Linked DNA regions of Homo sapiens. The main gene of each other region encodes a partner of the protein of the gene in region 2 in a complex. Each region holds a gene or a part of one and is shown on either strand. Other genes may lie near its edges.

Region 1 (9,278 bases), on a different chromosome or scaffold from region 2:
AGTTATAAATTTAATAAATCTAGTCTTCTACTTTCTAGTCTATATTAAATTAGAAAAGAGAAGCTGCAAAGGCAAGTGCAATGACAGCATGAGTAATTGAAACCTGAGAGCACGGAAGTAGAAAAATCATAAAACAAATAAAAATTTAATATTTATACTACTCGATGGTCATCTAATAGGCCAGGAAAAAGCTGACCTATATTATGACTATGATTCATCAAAAAAAAGCCTGCTGGGCGCCGTGGCTCATGTCTGTAATCCCAATACTTGGGAAGGATAAGGCGGGTGGATCACTTGAGGTCAGGAGTTTGTGTCCTGTCTGGCCAACATGGTAAAACCCCATCTCTACCAAAAATACAAAACTTAGTCAGGCGTGGTGGTGGGTGCCTGTAATCCCAGCTACTGGGGAGGCTGAGGCAGGAAAATCGCTTGAACCTGAAATGTGGAGGTTGCAGGGAGCCAAGACTGCACCAGTGCGCTCCAGGTGATGGAGTGAGGTAATATTTTAGAAAGATTAAATAACTAATGAAGAGGCAGGAGAAAGAATCGGAGATAATTCCCATGTTTCTAGAACTAGAATAAGTAGATTAGTAGTATCATTACACTGTAATATAATGCAGTACAGGGCAGTAGTTTAAAATCCATGTCCTAGAATTAGTTTCCATAGTCACTTGCGTGACTTTTGTTTCCTCATCTATAAAAACACCCTACCAGTGCCGACTCAAAGGGTTGTTGTAAGGGTTAAATGATTTAGAACAGTACCGTAGACAGAAGAAGCAACAATAAATGTTAGCTATAACTGTAACAGGTTGTTAGGGTGCAGTCACTGAGCTTAGTATGGGTCATGTTGAGTTGGGTATCTGAAGGGCACTGAGCAGCTACAAGCATCAGCTCCATTTTCAGATCCTTGGATCCAAATACCAGTTCTATCTGCCAGCAGATTCACCTCTATGGATATCAACTTCCTAATCTTTCACAATAATAAGAGTAAATCACTCACAGTGTTTTTATAAAGATTAAATGAGAATATGCAAATAAAATACTAGGCACAATGCCTAGCACATGGCAAGCCCTTCAAAAACAACAACTGTTATTACTGTCACGTGTGTGTGTGTTTACGTATATAATCATATTATGTTTGTTAGGCAATCTACTAATCCAGCAGGGAGACAATAGGCTGAAGATTTGGGAGTTATTTATAAATATGATAGTTCCAAGAAAATAAAAAGCCAATGAGAATCCTGTGAGCCTACAATATAAAGTAAAATCAGGGAGATAGGTGAAAAACTGGGAGATAGAAGCATTACAGAAGCAAACCCAAGTTTTAAAGGAGATGTTGCCTATATACTGTGTGGCATCAAAAGGGGCTGGAGGTTTTGAAGAAAGTCCACTGAATCTGCAAGTAGGAAGTCACGTGTGTCAAAGCTGTTTATAGAGGGGCAGAAACTTAGCAGGCTGGGGCTAAGGAATGAATGGAAGGTGACACCTGTAGAAGGGACATGTAGACAATTCTTTACAGAATTCTTCCAACTGTCTTCCCATCACCCCCAAAGGCAGTGACATGAGACAGTAACTCTGAGGGACAAAAACACTGTGGAAGGATTATGCTTTTTGTTTTAAGATTGTTTCCACGCCGCTATCACCTTTCCCTTAAAAAAAAAATCATCATCTACACAGCAACTAGTGTAATTTTCTAAAATTCAAATGTGATGGTGTCGTTTCTTCGCTTAAAATTCTTCACTAGCTCCCAATCGCACATTGAAAAAAATATCAAGTCCTTACCAGTGAGGTCCAAGGCCATTTATGAAATGTCCCCTTCACACATCCACTGTGTTCCAGACATGTGAAACTACCTGCAGGCCTTCACGTGTGCCAAGTTCTCTCTTGCTTTTGTATCATTACACACATATCCCCTCCCCTGAAAAATGTGCTTCCTCCTTTGTCTCTCTAACAAACTCCTCACTATCCTTTAAAGGCAAATGATATCTTCTCTAGAGAGCATTCTCACCTTGAAGGGCATTTAAGAACTTCTCTTCTGTGCTTCCAGGGTGCCTTAATCTTTGTAGCTCCCTCTACCTCAACCTTGAATTTTCACCCTGGTAAAATGTTCTGTAACTCCCACCAAACTGCTAGCTTTGGAGGACCAAGCCAATGCTCTCTTATAGTTATGTATCTGCCACTATGAAAGAAAAGAGAGGAGAAGAAGAGAGAAGCGAAGTGAAGAGAAGCAAAAGCAAAGCGAGTAAAAAAGACTCAGGCTTGAGCTCTAGTGTCACCACTTACTGATGTGTGGCCTTGGGCAAGCTACTTAATTTCTAATCCTTGGTTTTTCCTTGTCTGGGAATTTAAAATGGCACCTATTTTAGTACTGTAAGGAGAAGAGAAAATACCAAAAAGCAAAGTAATCAGTACATTGCAATAAAATTACTTTATGTCCATTATTATTGTATTAAAAATAAGTAAATAATTACAAATAAAATATATAAATCATATACTTATTTACTATTAACAGCTTAATACACAACTAAACTAATAAATACTAATATTATGTAATGATAACACAGCAAATACAGTACAGAAATCATCTCTAATTTTTTTTTTTTGGAGACAGAGTCTCGCTCTGTTGCCCAGGTTGGAGTGCAGTGGCACAATCTCAGCTCACTGCTGCCTCCGCCTCCTGGGTTCAAGCAATTCACCTGCCTCAGCCTCCCTGGTAGCTGGGACTACAGGTGTGGGCCATCACACCCAGCTAATTTTTGTATTTTTAGTAGAGATGGGGTTTCACCAACATTGGCCAGGCTGATACTGAACTCCTGACCTCAAGTGATCCACCCACTTTAGCCTCCCAAAGTGCTAGGATTACAGGCGTGACCCACTGCGCTCAGCCATCTCTAAATCTTAATATGTACTACAGCAAACATGATAGAATTAACGGCTAATATTTGATTAGTAACCTCTGCAAAAAATCAGATAGGACTTTAAAAGACACCTCTGATTCTTATATATTCCATTATTTTACAACTTCTCCCTCACAAACCCTTTCACAGGAGCGTCTAAGAGATATTACACAGGAAAATTAAATGGATTACATTTCATCTCATTTTATTTTACAGACAACCTGATTATCAGCCAATATGTGGCTCAATATCATTGGGAGAAAAAACTGAGAGGCTTGATAATTCGCTCCTTAACCAAATGTTATCGCAAGGGAAAAAAAGACAAACAAAAATCCTGTATACAAAATTCAATGAATAAATCAACAAGATTCTTCATAAGTAAACAAGATTCTAACTTCATAAATATTATTCCTCATAAACAAGATTCTAGGTATGGTTTAAAAACACTTTTGGTATTTGAATTTCTTTCAAGCATTCTTTAAAAAATTTCCCAGAGTACTCATAAGAAGCAATCTTCCTCCTAACGCCCAAGCAGTAACAGCAACTGTTAATGCAACAGGTGAAAAAATCGTTGGCATCTCTTTCTCAAAAGAAAGGGGAAAGCTTTATTTTCACAATAGATGTTTTTACAGGAATGCTAAACGCAGCACAACCTTTGATAAGGATTCTTAAATGGTCTACATTTTTGTTCTATTTTTATGCATCTCGAAACAACCCTATTAATATAATTTGGCTCTTATAAATATAACAAATTGATCACCTTTTCTCAGACATAATTAAGAAGGCTTTGACAGGTTGAAGATTCAGCCCCAGGTTGACACTCTAAAAGGAAATAAACACACTCAGTACACATCTGATTTAAAAGCATTTAAATAAGAATCGGGAGTAGGAAAGGCAAAGATTGAATTCTCTATCAGAGCACCATGCTCAACTCTCCGGGGACACGGAGACCAGTGAAAGAAGCGCAAAAGTACGGTGAGGACTCTCAGAAATCGCATTCCCCCGGGACACCCGGCCCACGCTCGTCGGTCACTACGCTATCAGCCTCCGCGCTCTCGGACTCCAGCAGCCCCGACACGCCGCCCAGGAGAGGGCCGGGCAGGCCGAGCACCCCGGCCCGCGCTCCCGCCACCAGCGCACCCATGATGTACTCACGGAGAGGGGTACGCAGAACCGCCCGTCCCGCCGGAGCCGACACCCGGAGCAGTGCAAATCAACTCCCCCAGCCTAGCGGCGCGTGCGCGAAGTGAGGCGGCCACGCAGCCACCTAACCCGCCAGCGACCCGTGTCCTGAAAGCAAGCCGCGGCTCTGTGCCGCAGTGCGGACAGCGCGCCGCCTGCTGACGTCAGCGCCTGCCTACGCCGCCGTTCCCATGGCGACCGATGCGTCCCGCGCTCTAGGCGAAGACCGCGGCCCCGTCCCCGCGCCTCCACCGCCTTCTTCCAGGAGGAGGGGCCGTGCGGCGCCTGCCCGGGGGCCCTCAGGCCGCAGGCGGGCGCGAGCTTCAGGGAACTTAGGGGGCTCCCGCCTCCCCGGCCACGCGAGCGGGAACAGTCTCCTCCACTCGGAGCGGTAAGGGACCCGGAAATGCGCGGGTGCCCCTACAGAGTCTTGAGTTTTCCCCGCCCTCACCTCCGAAAATGCTCTTTTCGCCTTAGAATTGTAGCTAGCGCAGGGAAAAACTGACTGGGCAAAGGAAAACTGGGGAGGCTGTCATGGAAGCCGCCCAGAATAAGAAAATGAATGAATGAGGCAAAGAAACAGATTTGTCACTCCCCACGCGATCGCGCCCACAAAAGAAAACATGGTTTTAAGGCGTGGAAAATGAAGTTGTACTACAGACAAAATTTTAAGAAAAAATTATCCACTGTTCCTTTAGAGCTATCTCCCTGTGTGTGAAAAACAAAACAAAAGTTAAAACGCCATCCTTTTCTACACCTAATGCTCCCTCCCACTTTTCTGATTTCTGCCACAGGCGCCATCTTCAGCTCTGAGTCACCAGGGCTGGAAAAATACTAGATGCGCTACTCGTGGACTCGTGAATACACTCGTGAATACAGGCCATTTCCTGTACCTACAGCCACCCGCTGTAAGCTGTTGCTTCATTTGTACAGTAAGAGTTTATGGAGGCCAGCTTTTCCATTCTTACTGACATTGCCACACCTTACAAACTATATGTCTTGTGCTTCCCTAAATCCTGTGAGGAAGCAACGAGAAAGATTACTAATCCAATGCGTACCGAACTGAGCTGTTCAACTTTCCGTTCTAAACATACTCTCCTAGATTTCTATCTTGCTGTAAGCCACCACAATCCTCCCAGTGTTTTAGTAAGAACAGTAGAGTATCCTAAATGCATCTTATGCCAAAGCATATCCATTCTCTCTTTTTAACTTCCTCAGATGGGCCCTTTACCAGTTCTCTGACTCCAGTTTGACTCTTAAATTCTCCACACTGCTATCAGAATGACCTGACTAAAAATGTAAATCGGATAATGGCACTCTCCTGCTGAAAATTTTTGAAAGGCAATCTGTAAGAGAAAATGATTACTTTGCCTAGGATACAAGATTCTCCATCTCCCTGACTAGTTTCATCTCTCGTTAGCTTCTTGTTCCAATTTTATGCAATATTGAATCATGTGTACCATGCAGTTTTATGCAACATTGAATTATGTGTACCATGAAAAACAATCCATAGCCTTTCACGCCCCGTCCTTACTCATATTGTCCTCTCTTCCTGAAAATTCCTCCTTTTACACTCCTGCATCACAGCCAAATGTTGTCCATCCTTTGAATCTTAAGCAGGTTGACTGACTCCTTCAAACACTCCTACTCCCTATTAGACTTCGGATACTCATTCTATATATTAGACTTTGGATGCTCATTCTATAGTTTCATAGTTTACTTTGTATTTTCTCTATCCCCAGCATCTACCACAGTGTCTATGAAATAGTTGGCATTTCATGAACATTTGTTGAATGAATAATGGATAACATATATTGAGCTCCTTCTAGGAGGTATGCATTGTAGGTGTTTTATGTACTTTTCATCTGTCCTCACAACTGCATTTAAGTACCTGCTTTTCCAAAGGGAAGTTATAACTCTGACTGCTCATTCTTAGTAGGGTGTTAGTTTCAGAATACAATCCCCAGACTAGCGGATGTGTAACCCTGTTATCATCTCTTGCTTCTCCATTTACAGTAGCATGCAGAGGTGCAGTGGGGTGGGGGAGGTCAGGGAATATTTCATAGCAGAAGTGACATTTAAGTAAAGACCAAAATAATGTGTAGAGTTGTCCAGGTTAGGAAGGGTTTCCAGGTAGAAGAAGGTGGCGTATAGTGTTCACTACAAGAAAGTTTGGTATAATACAAGAACTGGAAGAAAAAAAAAAAAAGTTCAAGTTGGCTAACTAAAAGGTAGAGAATGAGACTAGGGGCTTTTGGAGGAGACAAAACAAGAGAGTTAAACAAGCTATGAAGAGACCCAGACAGTATTGGTCAGTGGAATACCACTATAGAATTTTATGGAGTGAAATTTTCAAATTTTAATATCATAAAGATAACTCTGGCTGCAGGGTGGAGAACAGACAGGAAGGAAGCAAATCTAGATCTGGGAATACCATTTAAGATGCCGTTGCTGTAAGCCATGTAAGAGACAAAGGTGGCATGGTCAAGGCTAAGAAAAATCAGAATGGAGAGAAATGGACCAATTTGAGAAATTTTTAGGAGGTAAAAATGTCAGGACTTAGTGATTGATTGGATGGAAGAGTGAATGATAAGAAATAATAAAAAACGATGACCAGCTGTTTTGCCTTCCCCTTGGCAAGTAAAGAGGTGGCAAGCATGAAAGGGGAGTGAGGAAATAAATATGTTGGGTCTAATGGGAGCCAGGTTTCTCACTGACAGAGAAGGACGTTACAAATTGAGAGAGGAAGAATTCCACAGTGACCTTTGTGGTGATGTTGAATTGGAATTGAATATGTCAGTGTCAACTCATAGTTTTCAATATATACATAAACATATGTAAAAATAAATATAGAGGAAAGTATGTCTGTATGTGTGTGCGTATCTATCTATTATGCTCTTCCTAGCTCTATCTGCTGAAAGGGTTTCAGAGTAATGGTATACTAGAAGCAATGAGCACATGTGCCTAGATCTTGGTTTCTGAACAGTATTATTCACTAAAAGTAACTGGGTCCCTTGGAGAAATGGTTGATTTTAGAACAGGAGCCTGGAAAATTCTTGTTGCACCAGAAGTTAAGGAAGTTAATACAGAATGAAGAAACATATCAAAAGGTCACAGAAGCCAGCTTGAAGGAGCCACCACTGGCCACATCTGGGTCAATCTGAGCACCAATATAATGTTAATGGATTATAGTCCGCTAAATAAAATAGGAATATTTGAGCCCATACTAAAATGAATAAATGATTTTTTTGAAAAATCAGGATAAAGAAAAGCTCTGCCTTACATAAAAATGCCAACTAAATGTAATGAATGTAGACAGTGTTATATGTAGAAACATCATTATTTGGCAGTCATGATAGTAACAGTTGATTCAGACTAGAATCATCAGTGTATGCTAAAACTAGAGGGTGAGAGTATTAAGAGACATATAATATTTATATAGTCTCAAAGTATCTCTCCAGCAAATACTTATTAATTACACAGAGAAAAATTAGAAAACTTGACAGTGTAGAAATCTGGCACTGGTGAGCGAAGTTACCATCAGCAGTCATGAGACAAATCAGCATCGTGTATGTCCTGGTTAGAGGCACTTAGAATACACTTCTGTGACATTCCTGCCAAAAATGTGTAATCCGAATCAATCGTGAGGAAAAAATCAGACAACCCAAATGTCCCAAATTGAGGGACATTCTACAAAATAATAGACCTGTACTCTTCAAAGATCAAGGTCATGAAAGACAAAGGAACAACTAAAGAACGTTTTTAGATTGAAGGAGAATTAAGATACATGACAATTAAGTGGAATACATGATTCTGAATTGAATCCTTTTGCTATAAGGATATTATTGGGACAACTAACAATTTGAATGGGGTCTCTGGATTAGATGGTAGTATTTTAACAATATTAATTTCCTGATTTTGATGACTATAGTGACATAGATATTTTTGGTTTTAGAAAATACATATTGAAGTATTAAAGGTGATGAGGCTTCATATCTGCAACCTATTCAAATGGTTCAGGAAAAAAGTATACATAAATACTGTAAATAAATATAAACATAAATAATATACATAAAGAAAATGATAAAGCAAATGTTAACAGGGAATTTGGGCGAAAGCAGAAGTTCTTTATACTATTCTTGCAATTTTTCTGTAAGTTTATAATTATTTTAAAACTATAAAAGAAGTTTGAAAGGTGCCGAGGTTTCTGGCTCAGGTAACTGGGTGGAGAATGGCTAATCAGTTAACGACAAAAAATCAGGAAGAGCAAGCATGGAGGAAAAGATGTTTAGTTGCAATGGGATGTATGGAGTGGGATGTTCAGCAGGCAGTTGAGTATATACTAAACATATTAATGAGCCCCATTCAAACTGAATAAAGCAGATATGTTGCTTTAGCTCTCATTAGTCGAGAGTGCAAGACCAAGGGCACTCCGCTATCCTAGGAGAGGCAAACAATTAAGAGTGGTAGTATGGTAATAATTCTAAAAATTGGCTGAGTATCCATGAAAAAAATTGTGTGTATATATATATATATACACACACATATATGTATAAACATATATACACACATATATGTATAAATATATATCCACATATATGTATATATATACACACATATATGTATATATACACACATATATGTATAAATATATATACACATATATGTGTATGTGTGTGTGTGTGTGTATATATATATGTATGTATATAAATTGAACCGTTTAGGAATAAAATAGATTTAGGGTATTCGACACATTTAATACATAATGAATAGTGAATTTCTTGAATAATATAATGCCTAAATGTGACTGATATGCAAAATATTTAAATCCCTTACAGGATGTGCATTTACCAATCAGAACAGATGTTGGCTTTACTGCTTGTATTAGTTTTCTGTATTAGTTTGCTTGTATTAGTTTGCTGGGGCAGCCATAACAAAGTACCACAGAAATTTATATTCTCACAATTCTGGGGGCTAGAAGACTGAGATAAAGATGTCTGCAGGGTTGGTTTCTTCTAAGGACTCTCTTGTTGGCTTGTAGATGGTTGTTGTCTCCCTGTGTCTTCACCTGCACTTCCCTCTGTACCTGCCCGTATCTTAATCTCTTCTTATAAGGACAGAGTCATATTGGATTAGGGCTCACCCTAATGACCTCCTTTTAACTTAATTACCTCTTTAGAGACTCTGTCTTCAAATACA
Region 2 (9,119 bases):
TCAGCAGGTCTAGAGTGGGACCTATAATGTGCATTTTGACCTAACTCCTCACACTCTTCTGTTATAGTTTTCCCCCTTGGCTATTCACTTTTACTGGTCTATGCCAATCTACACATACACCTAAAATAACCCGACCAACTGTTCCAATTCAGTTGTCCTTATTGTTTTCATCTACTAATGACTGGCAAACACTTCCATTATGATATTTTCCCATAAATAATATCATTAGACATTTGTTTACCTCAGTGATATTTGAGTAGCAACTCGAATTACTCTTGGCTGAGTTCCTAAGTCATTTTCTCGTCCACTTACTGCATCCACTAAGAAAATGCGCCGAGTTAGAAGCCACTTTCCAGAGTTGCTGTCTTTTATTATAAAAAGAAAAAAGTTTACTGCACAAATTTAAAACATGAAATTATTGTTTTAGATAAGATGGCTGCAAAAAGCTACTAGTATAAGAAACACCTGACAATGGCGTTCTCTAACTCATGTGAATGTCTTCTTTTGTTTTTTTTAGACAGGGTCTCACTCTGTTGACCAGGCTATAGTGCAATAGCATGATCATGGCTCACTGCATGCATTCTCAACCTCCTGGGCTCAAGTGATCCTCCCACCTCAGCCTCCAGAGTAGCTGGGACTACAAGGGTGCACCATCACACCAAGCTAAATTTTTTTTTGTAGCAACCAGTTCTAATTATGTTGCCTAGGTTGGTCTTCAATTTCTAGGCTCAAGCAATTCTCTCGTCTTGGCCTCCCAAAGTGCTGCGATTATAGGCGTGAGCCACCGTGCCTTGGACTTGAATGTCTTCTGATTGAACTTTTCATAAATTTGGAAGGCTTTCCCCTGCAAATTACCTGAAAAAGCAGAATTTTATAACATGAATAACAACAAAAGAAACTAATTTGTCCAAAAAAGCATATTCGGGACAGCTTGACGAAAAAGCCCCAATTTACGGTTCTACTAATGTTTCTCAGGATATACCCTCAGCAACAGTATAATTTCTTAACAATATGTCTGGCAATAAAATTAGCAACAGTTTCTAAGTCCACCAGCAATTTATTGTTTCATTTTTTGGCACACTGTATAGAACCACATAAGAGAGAATTCATGACCTTTCTTATAATCAGTGGTTTATTAAATTATCATGTAGGTTAACTTATTTGTTGATTTCTGCTCAGGGAAAAGAGTGGTATGTATGGATGTCTTACCTTGGTTCACAAATATCTTATTATGTTGAAGATTTAGGTTTAACACAGGCACAGCCAAAATATATTGATGTTGATTTTCATCAGTATATTCAAGGTACACATCATAAAATATAGGAGTGGGAAAGTCAATTAAGATCTTAGAGATAGGAATCTCACACTGAAAAGTAAAATTAAAAATAAAAGCACATAAAACAGCAACTTAAAGTACTAAAAAGTAAAAAATAAAATAAAAGATCACAATTGAAAATTAGCAAGCATATTTATTATCTTCAGAGTGTTTTTCTAGTTTTGCAAAATGTCTTTATACTACCTTGTTTATATGCATTTTCATTTGTCTTCCAAAACATGAATACTATGATTATTTTATAAGGACCAAAACCACTAACAGTAAAGTACTGCTTTGAGAATTTTGAGAACTTCTTGAGCTTCAACTCAGATGAAGGAGGTATACCTTCATTCTCAATATTAAGGGTACATCAGTGAAAAGGTTTAAAACTACTGTCCTACGGGATAAATTCCCAATTTTTTCTCCTGCTGTACAATGATGTATATGATCTGGCTTCCATTAACCAAGCCAGGCTTATCTCTCATTACTCCCTATCAGTCTATGGTGGTCCATTCATACTAATCTACTTGTAGTTTCTAAATATGCCATACTACTGTATGTCTCTCTGTCATTACAAATGTGATTTCTGTCTGATATTTCCTTCCCCACTGTGTTCTTCTGGAAAACTCATATTCATTATACAAATCCAAGTATCACTTACTTTGTGAAGCCTTTCTATACTTCCCCAGGAATCAGTACCTTGTACATACCTATAGAATGACACTTATCACATTCTTTGCAATTCTTTGTCTATATAACTGTTTTGCCCACTAGTCTATGAAGGACTTGAGAGTTAGCCAGGTTCAAAGAAATAAAAATGCTTTTTAAACCTGATGATAGAACATTGGCTCCACAGTTTATGTGACACAAGTCTTTGAGTAAATTACCTAATTACACGGCATAATTTCCTCATCTGTGAAGCACAGATACTATGTATCTCATATAGTTATTTTATGAATCAAATGGGATAATAACGATAAAATGCTGAGCACACAGATAGGCATTACATAAGTGTTGATCTTTCTGGCCTATGTTAGAAGCACAATAACATTTATTTTAACAACAACAGCAACAACAACGTGTAAATCATTTCTGACAAAAGAAGTAAATTCATGTTCATGGTAGAAAATTTGGAAATTATAAAAAAGAAAAAAATAATTTCTAACCCCACTATCCAGAGGTAACCACTGTTAGTAGATTCTTCCAATCTACTTTCCATAATGGTATTTTTTGTTATGGTTTTGTTCTATGGTTGTGCGTGGAACTTTATCAAGATGTACTTTTACAGACTAATGAATTGATATGGTTTGGCTGTGTCCCCACCCAAATCTCATCTTGAACTGTAGTTCCCATAATCCCCATGTGTCATGGGAAGGACCCGGAGGGAGGTAATTGAATCATAGGGGCAGTTACCCTCATGCTGTTCTCATGATAGTGAGTGAGTTCTCATGAGATTGATGGTTTTATGAGGGGCTTCTCCCCCTTTTGCTCAGTACTTCTCTTCCTGTCACCACGTGAAAAAGGACATGTTTGCTTCCCTTCCACCATGATTGTAAGTTTCCTGAGGCCTCCTCAGCCATAGTGAACTGTGAGTCAATTAAACCTATTTCCTTTGTAAATTACCCAGTCTCGGATGTGTTTTTATTAGCAGCGTGAGAACGGACTAATACATGCATGTTTTTCAAGTATTGAATGGCTCATAATATTCCTTAGTAAAATAATGTAATTTCAAAATAGGTATCAAAGTAAGGAAAGTCAGAGAAGGAAGGAGAAAGAAAAGAATGGAAGAAGATGAAGGAATTATTTTTATTTGTTATGAGCGGGTAGAAGAAGGGAGTAACTTTTTATTAGTCATTTAAAAAAAGTAGTATTTTTACTTTATTTCAAAATGCTCAGAAGTAAGCATTACTTTTTAAGACCTATAAGCCTAGAAGCAGATAAACAATTTATTATGAAGATGTAATATTATATGATGTTTAAGACTCTAGGCCGGACGAGGTGGCTCACACCTGTAATCCCAGCACTTTGGGAGGCCAAGGCTGGTGGATCAGTTGAGGTCAGGAGTTTGAGACAAGCGTGGTCAACACAGCAAAACCCCATCTCTATGCAAAACACAAGAATTAGCTGGGTGTGGTGGTACATGCCTGTTGTCCCAGCTACTCAGGTGGTTGAGGCACGAGAATTGCTTGAACCCAGGAGGCAAGAGATTGCAGTGAGCTGAGATTGCACCACTGCACTCCAGCCTGGGCAACAGAGCGAGACTCTGTCTCAAAAAACAAAAAACTCTATAGATAACAAGGTGCTCTGTTTATGCCACTTAAATTAAGCTTTTATGTACCCAGGTAATAAAAAATTATATTAAATAGTGAAATTATTCTTCACTATTAAAAACATTTCCGGCCAGGCACGGTGGCTCATGCCTGTAATCTCAGCACTTCGGGAGGCTGAGGAGGGCAGATCATCTGAGGTGGGGAGTTCAAGATCAGCCTGATCAACATGGAGAAACCCTGTCTTTACTAAAAATACAAAAAATTAGCTGGGCGTGGTGGCACATGTCTGTAATTCCAGCTACTCGGGAGGCTGAGGCAGGAGAATCACTTGAACCTGGGAGGCGGAGGTTGTGGTGAACTGAGATTGCACCACTGCACTCCAGCCTGGGCAACAAGAGCAAAACTCCATCTCAAAAAAAAAAAAAAAAAAACCAAGAATAAAAAATTTCCAATCTCAAAAATTTAAGTATTATTCCAATTACTGCTGACATGATATTTTGAAAAATAAAGCTAAAATATAGACTAATATCGTTCAAACTTACATTTTGTTGGTAGGTTGTTCCAAATGAATAAGCAGCATTTAGCCTTGTCTCTGTGTCTGGACAAAGCTGCAGCAAAATAATACAACAGATAAATCTCACAAATGTTTTCTATTCTTATACTCAAGAGTTCTCAAACCCGAACATGGATATATGCTCTACATAATACTTATTTAATGTATCAAGGATATGAAAAGTTAAGGGAACATCTGTTATAAATGAAAGTCATAACTTTAAAGAAATAAAACTTAGCCAGGCATGGTGGCTCATGCCTGCAATCCCAGCGCTTTGGGAGGCCAAGAAGGGCGGATCACGAGGTCAGGAGATCAAGACCATCCTGGCTAACATGGTGAAATCCCGTCTCTACTAAAAGTACATAAAAATTAGCTGGACGTGGTGGCAGTCGCCTGTAGTTCCAGCTCCCAGCTGAAGCAGGAGAATGGCGTGAACCCGCAAGGCGGAGCTTGTAGTGAGCTGAGATCGCGCCACTGCACTCCAGCCTGGTTAAGAAAGCGAGACTCCATCTCAAAAAAAAAAGAAAAAACAAACAAACAAACAAACAAACAAAAAACTTAAGAAAGTCTAATTTAAAGCATCAGAAAAAAAATCAACTGTAGTATGTAACTGATGCTTTATTCATACAATAATCTTTTCCTCTTGGCTTTGTCTCAGGCAAAAATAATGCATGTTATTAATTCTTTAACTAGAATCATGCTTACCTGTAAAACACCTCCTTCTAAAGTTTGCCACTTGAGAAAATTTCCTCTTATATCATAGGAAGCAGCAACAAACTTCAGTTTTGTATTCTGATTAAAGAAAACGAGCAAAATCAGGTCAAATACTCTGAAAGTAATACAATATCCTATAAAGAAATTTTCATTGTTGACTGATCTTTTTTGTTGAAAAATTACATTCAATTATCTTTATTTTGAGGTTCAATTAATCTATTTCTATGACTAAATAGACCTGAAAGAATTAGACTGGTTTTTTGCATGAAAATTATTATTCTAGAATTGAGAGGCAGCACTAGTGACAGATAGCCTCCTTTTGAACCTGTTAAATAGGAGGCAGTGTGGGAGAATAGTATCTCCTCATTCTGGAAGGTCAAAAAGTTACAGGTAGGAATTTGGCCCTGTGAAGTGCTGAGCAATGTCACAGAGCCCCAATCAATCTTTGGAAGCACTTCTTTAAGGTGTGGAAAAAACAGGACAGAGATTTTTTGCATTTGGTGATGAAAACTGCTCTTCCCAACCCTACAAGTACAACTTCTTGCCATAACCACACAATCCAGAAGTATCCACATATTCAGTAAGATAGCTAAACTCTATACTATTTAGTTCTTATGAGTTGTTGACATTTATATTTAGTTTAGTAACTGAGTTTGTACCAACAACCTAAAAAGGCAAGAATTGTAACTTTATTACCTTTTAAAATTATAAATCAAAATGTAGTTATCCTCTAATGATATTAGACACTTTTACCTGGTTTTCTCCTTTAAAACTGAAATTTGTAGGAAGAGAGGTAGAACTGAGCACTTGAGGTGCTAATCCTAACTGGTCTCCATAAAACAGCCAAGGAAGATTCTGTCTCCTATAAACAGTTACAACTGTTTTAATAATGGAGAATAAATATTTCTTATTATTAGTATTTGTGAATATATTAATAACTGCACTGAATTCAGTCAAAATAACATTTCATCAATCAAAATATCCTTACCAAAATGAAATAGAATGAACAGTGCTCAGTCCAGCAGTATTTTCAAAGATAAACTGAAATAGTCCACATGCATCAAATGTGGCAAAGTCGTAAGAATTCATGTTCATCACACACATATTTCCAAGAGCTTGACAAGATGTTAGATTGGCATATACCTACAACAGAACAATGGCAAAGAAAAGTAACATGAACCTGAACAGTCTATGCAAAAGTTGATATAAAAATTTTACTTTGTGCAGGTCTGTTCCAAGATGGCCGAGTAGGAACAGCTCCGGTCTGCAGCTCCCAGCATAATCAACGCAGAAGGCAGGTGATTTCTGCATTTCCAACTGAGATACCTGGTTCATCTCATTGGGACTGGTTGGACAGTGGGTGCAGCCCATGGAGGGCAAGCTGAAGCAGGGTGGGGCATCACCTCACCCAGGAAGCGCAAGGGGTTGGGGGATTTCCCTTTCCTAGCCAAGGGAAGCCGTGACAGACTGTACCTGGAAAAATGGGACACCTCCACCTAAACACTGCGCTTTTCCAATGGTCTTAGCAAACGGCACACCAGATTACATCCCACGCCTGGCTCGGTGGGTCCCACGCCTACAGAGCCTTGCTCACTGCTAGCACAGCTGAGATCAACCTGCCAGGCAGCAGGCTGGCAGGGGGAGGGGTGTCTGCCATTGCTGAGGCTTGAGTAGGAAAACAAAGCAGCCGGGGAAGCTCCAACTGGGTGGAGCCCACCGCAGTTCAGCAAGGCCTGCTGCCTCTGTTGACTCCACCTCTGGCAGCAGGGCATAGCTGAACAAAAGGCACCAGAAACTTCTGCAGAGTTAAACATCCCTGTCTGACAGCTCTGAAGAGAGCAGTGGTTCTCCCAGCACAGCGTTTGAGCTCAGAGAATGGATAGACTGCCTCCTCAAGTGGATCCCTGACCCTGTGTAGCCTAACTGGGAGACACCTCCCAGTAGGGGCCGACAGACACCTCATACAGGTGGGCGCCCCTCTGGGACGAAGCTTCCAGAGGAAGGATCAGGCAGCAATATTTGCTGTTCTACAACCTCCGCTGGTAATATCCAGGAAAACAGCGTCTGGAGTGGACCTCTAGCAAACTCCAACAGACCTGCAGCTGAGGGACCTGTTAGAAGGAAAACTAACAAATAGAAAGGAATAGCATCAACATCAACAAAAAGGACATCCACATCAAAACCCCATCCACATCAAAACCCCATCTGTAGGTCACCAACATCAAAGACCAAAGGTAGGTAAAACCATAAAGATGGGGAGAAACCAGAGCAGAAAAGCTGAAAATTCTAAAAACCAGAGTGCCTCCTCTCTTCCAAAGGAATGCAGCTCCTCACCAGCAACAGAACAAAGCTGGATGGAGAATGACTTTGACAAACTGACAGAAGTACGCTTCAGAAGGTCGGTAATAACAAACTTCTCTGAGCTAAAGGAGGATGTTCGAACCCGTCGGAAGGAAGCTAAAAACCTTGAAAAAAGATTAGACAAATGGCTAACTAGAATAAACAGTGTAGAGAAGACCTTAAATGACCTGATGGAGCTAAAAGACATGGCACAAGAACTATGTGATGCATGCACAAGCTTCAGTAGCCGATTTGGTCAAGTGGAAGAAAGGGTATCAGTAATTGAAGATCAAATTAATGAAATAAAGCGAGACGACAAGGTTAGAGAAAAAAGACTAAAAAGAAATGAGCAAAGCCTCCAAGAAATATGGGACTATGTGAAAAGACCAAATCTATGTTTGATTGGTGTACCTGAAAGTGATGGGGAAAATGGAACCAAGTTGGAAGACACTCTTCAGGATATTATCCAGGAGAACTTCCCCAACCTAGCAAGGCAGGCCAACATTCAAATTCAGGAAATACAGAGAACAAAACAAAGATACTCCTTGAGAAGAGGAACCCCAAGACACATAATTGTCAGATTCACCAAGGTTAAACTGAAGGAAAAAATATTCAGGGCAGCCAGAGAGAAAGGTTGGGTTACCCACAAAGGGAAGCCCATCAGACTAACAGCAGATTTCTTGGCAGGAACTCTACAGCCAGAAGAGAGTGGGGGCCAATATTCAACATTCTTAAAGAAAAGAATTTTCAAGCCAGAATTTCATATCCAGCCAAACTAAGCTTCATAAGTGAAGGAGAAATAAAATCCTTTACAGACAAGCAAAGGTTGAGAGATTTTGACACCACCAGGCCTGCCTTACATAAGCTCCTGAAGGAAGCACTAAACATGGGAAGGAACAACCAGTACCAGCCACTGCAAAAACATGCCAAATTGTAAAGATCATCAATGCTAGGAAGAAACTGCATCAACTAATGGGCAAAATGACCAGCTAACATCATAATGACAGGATCAAATTCACACATACCAATATTACACCTTAAACGTAAATGGGCTAAATGCTCCAATTAAAAGACACAGACTGGCAAATTGGATAAAGAGTAAAGACCCATCAATGTGCTGTATTCAGGAGACCCATCTCACGTGCAAAGACACACATAGGCTCAAAATAAAGGGATGGAGGAAGATATACCAAGCAAATGGAAAGCAAAAGAAAGCAGGCATTGCAATCCTAGTCTCTGATAAAATAGACTTTAAACCAACAAAGATCAAAAGAGACAAAGAAGGGCATTACATAATGGTAAAGGGATCAATTCAACAAGAAGAGCTAACTATCCTAAATATATATGCACCCAATACAGGAGCACCCAGATTCATAAAGCAAGTCCTTAGAGACCTACAAAGAGACTTAGACTCCCACACAATAATAATGGGAGACTTTAACACCCCACTGTCACTATTAGGCAGATCAACAAGACAGAAGGTTAACAAGAATATCCAGGACTTGAACTCAGCTCTGCACCAAATGGACCTAATAGACACCTACAGAACTCTCCACCCCAAATCAACAGAATATACATTCTTCTCAGCACCACCTCGCACTTATTCCCAAATTGACCACATACTTGGAAATAAAGCACTCCTCAGCAAATGTAAAAGAACAGAAATGACAACAAACTGTCTCTCAGACCACAGTGCAATCAAATTAGAACTCAGGGTTAAGAAACTCACTCAAAACCACACAACGACATGGAAACTGAACAACTTGCTCCTGAATGACTACTGGGTAAATAATGAAATGAAGGCAGAAATAAAGATGTTCTTTGAAATCAATGAGAACAAAGATACAATGTACCAGAATCTCTGGGACACATTTAAAGCAGTGTATAGAGGGAAATTTACAGCACTAAATGCCCACATAAGAAAGCA

Evidence for each region.
Region 1: TMEM67 (region 2) and AHI1 share a complex: the UniProt entries of both Homo sapiens proteins name them as parts of the tectonic-like complex.

The regions. Positions count from the first base shown.
Region 1 is NC_000006.12:135,493,531-135,502,808, forward strand, and holds the start of AHI1 (jouberin), read right to left. Parts: upstream 4,211-9,278; 5' UTR 4,053-4,210; intron 3,720-4,052; 5' UTR 3,658-3,719; intron 2,369-3,657; 5' UTR 2,284-2,368; intron 2,180-2,283; exon of another isoform or gene 2,009-2,179; intron 1-2,008. UniProt on the Homo sapiens protein: Involved in vesicle trafficking and required for ciliogenesis, formation of primary non-motile cilium, and recruitment of RAB8A to the basal body of primary cilium.
Region 2 is NC_000008.11:93,777,469-93,786,587, reverse strand, and holds part of TMEM67 (meckelin isoform 1 precursor), read right to left. Parts: intron 5,996-9,119; coding exon 5,841-5,995; intron 5,715-5,840; coding exon 5,606-5,714; intron 4,931-5,605; coding exon 4,844-4,930; intron 4,194-4,843; coding exon 4,128-4,193; intron 1,367-4,127; coding exon 1,210-1,366; intron 366-1,209; coding exon 242-365; intron 1-241. UniProt on the Homo sapiens protein: Required for ciliary structure and function. Part of the tectonic-like complex which is required for tissue-specific ciliogenesis and may regulate ciliary membrane composition.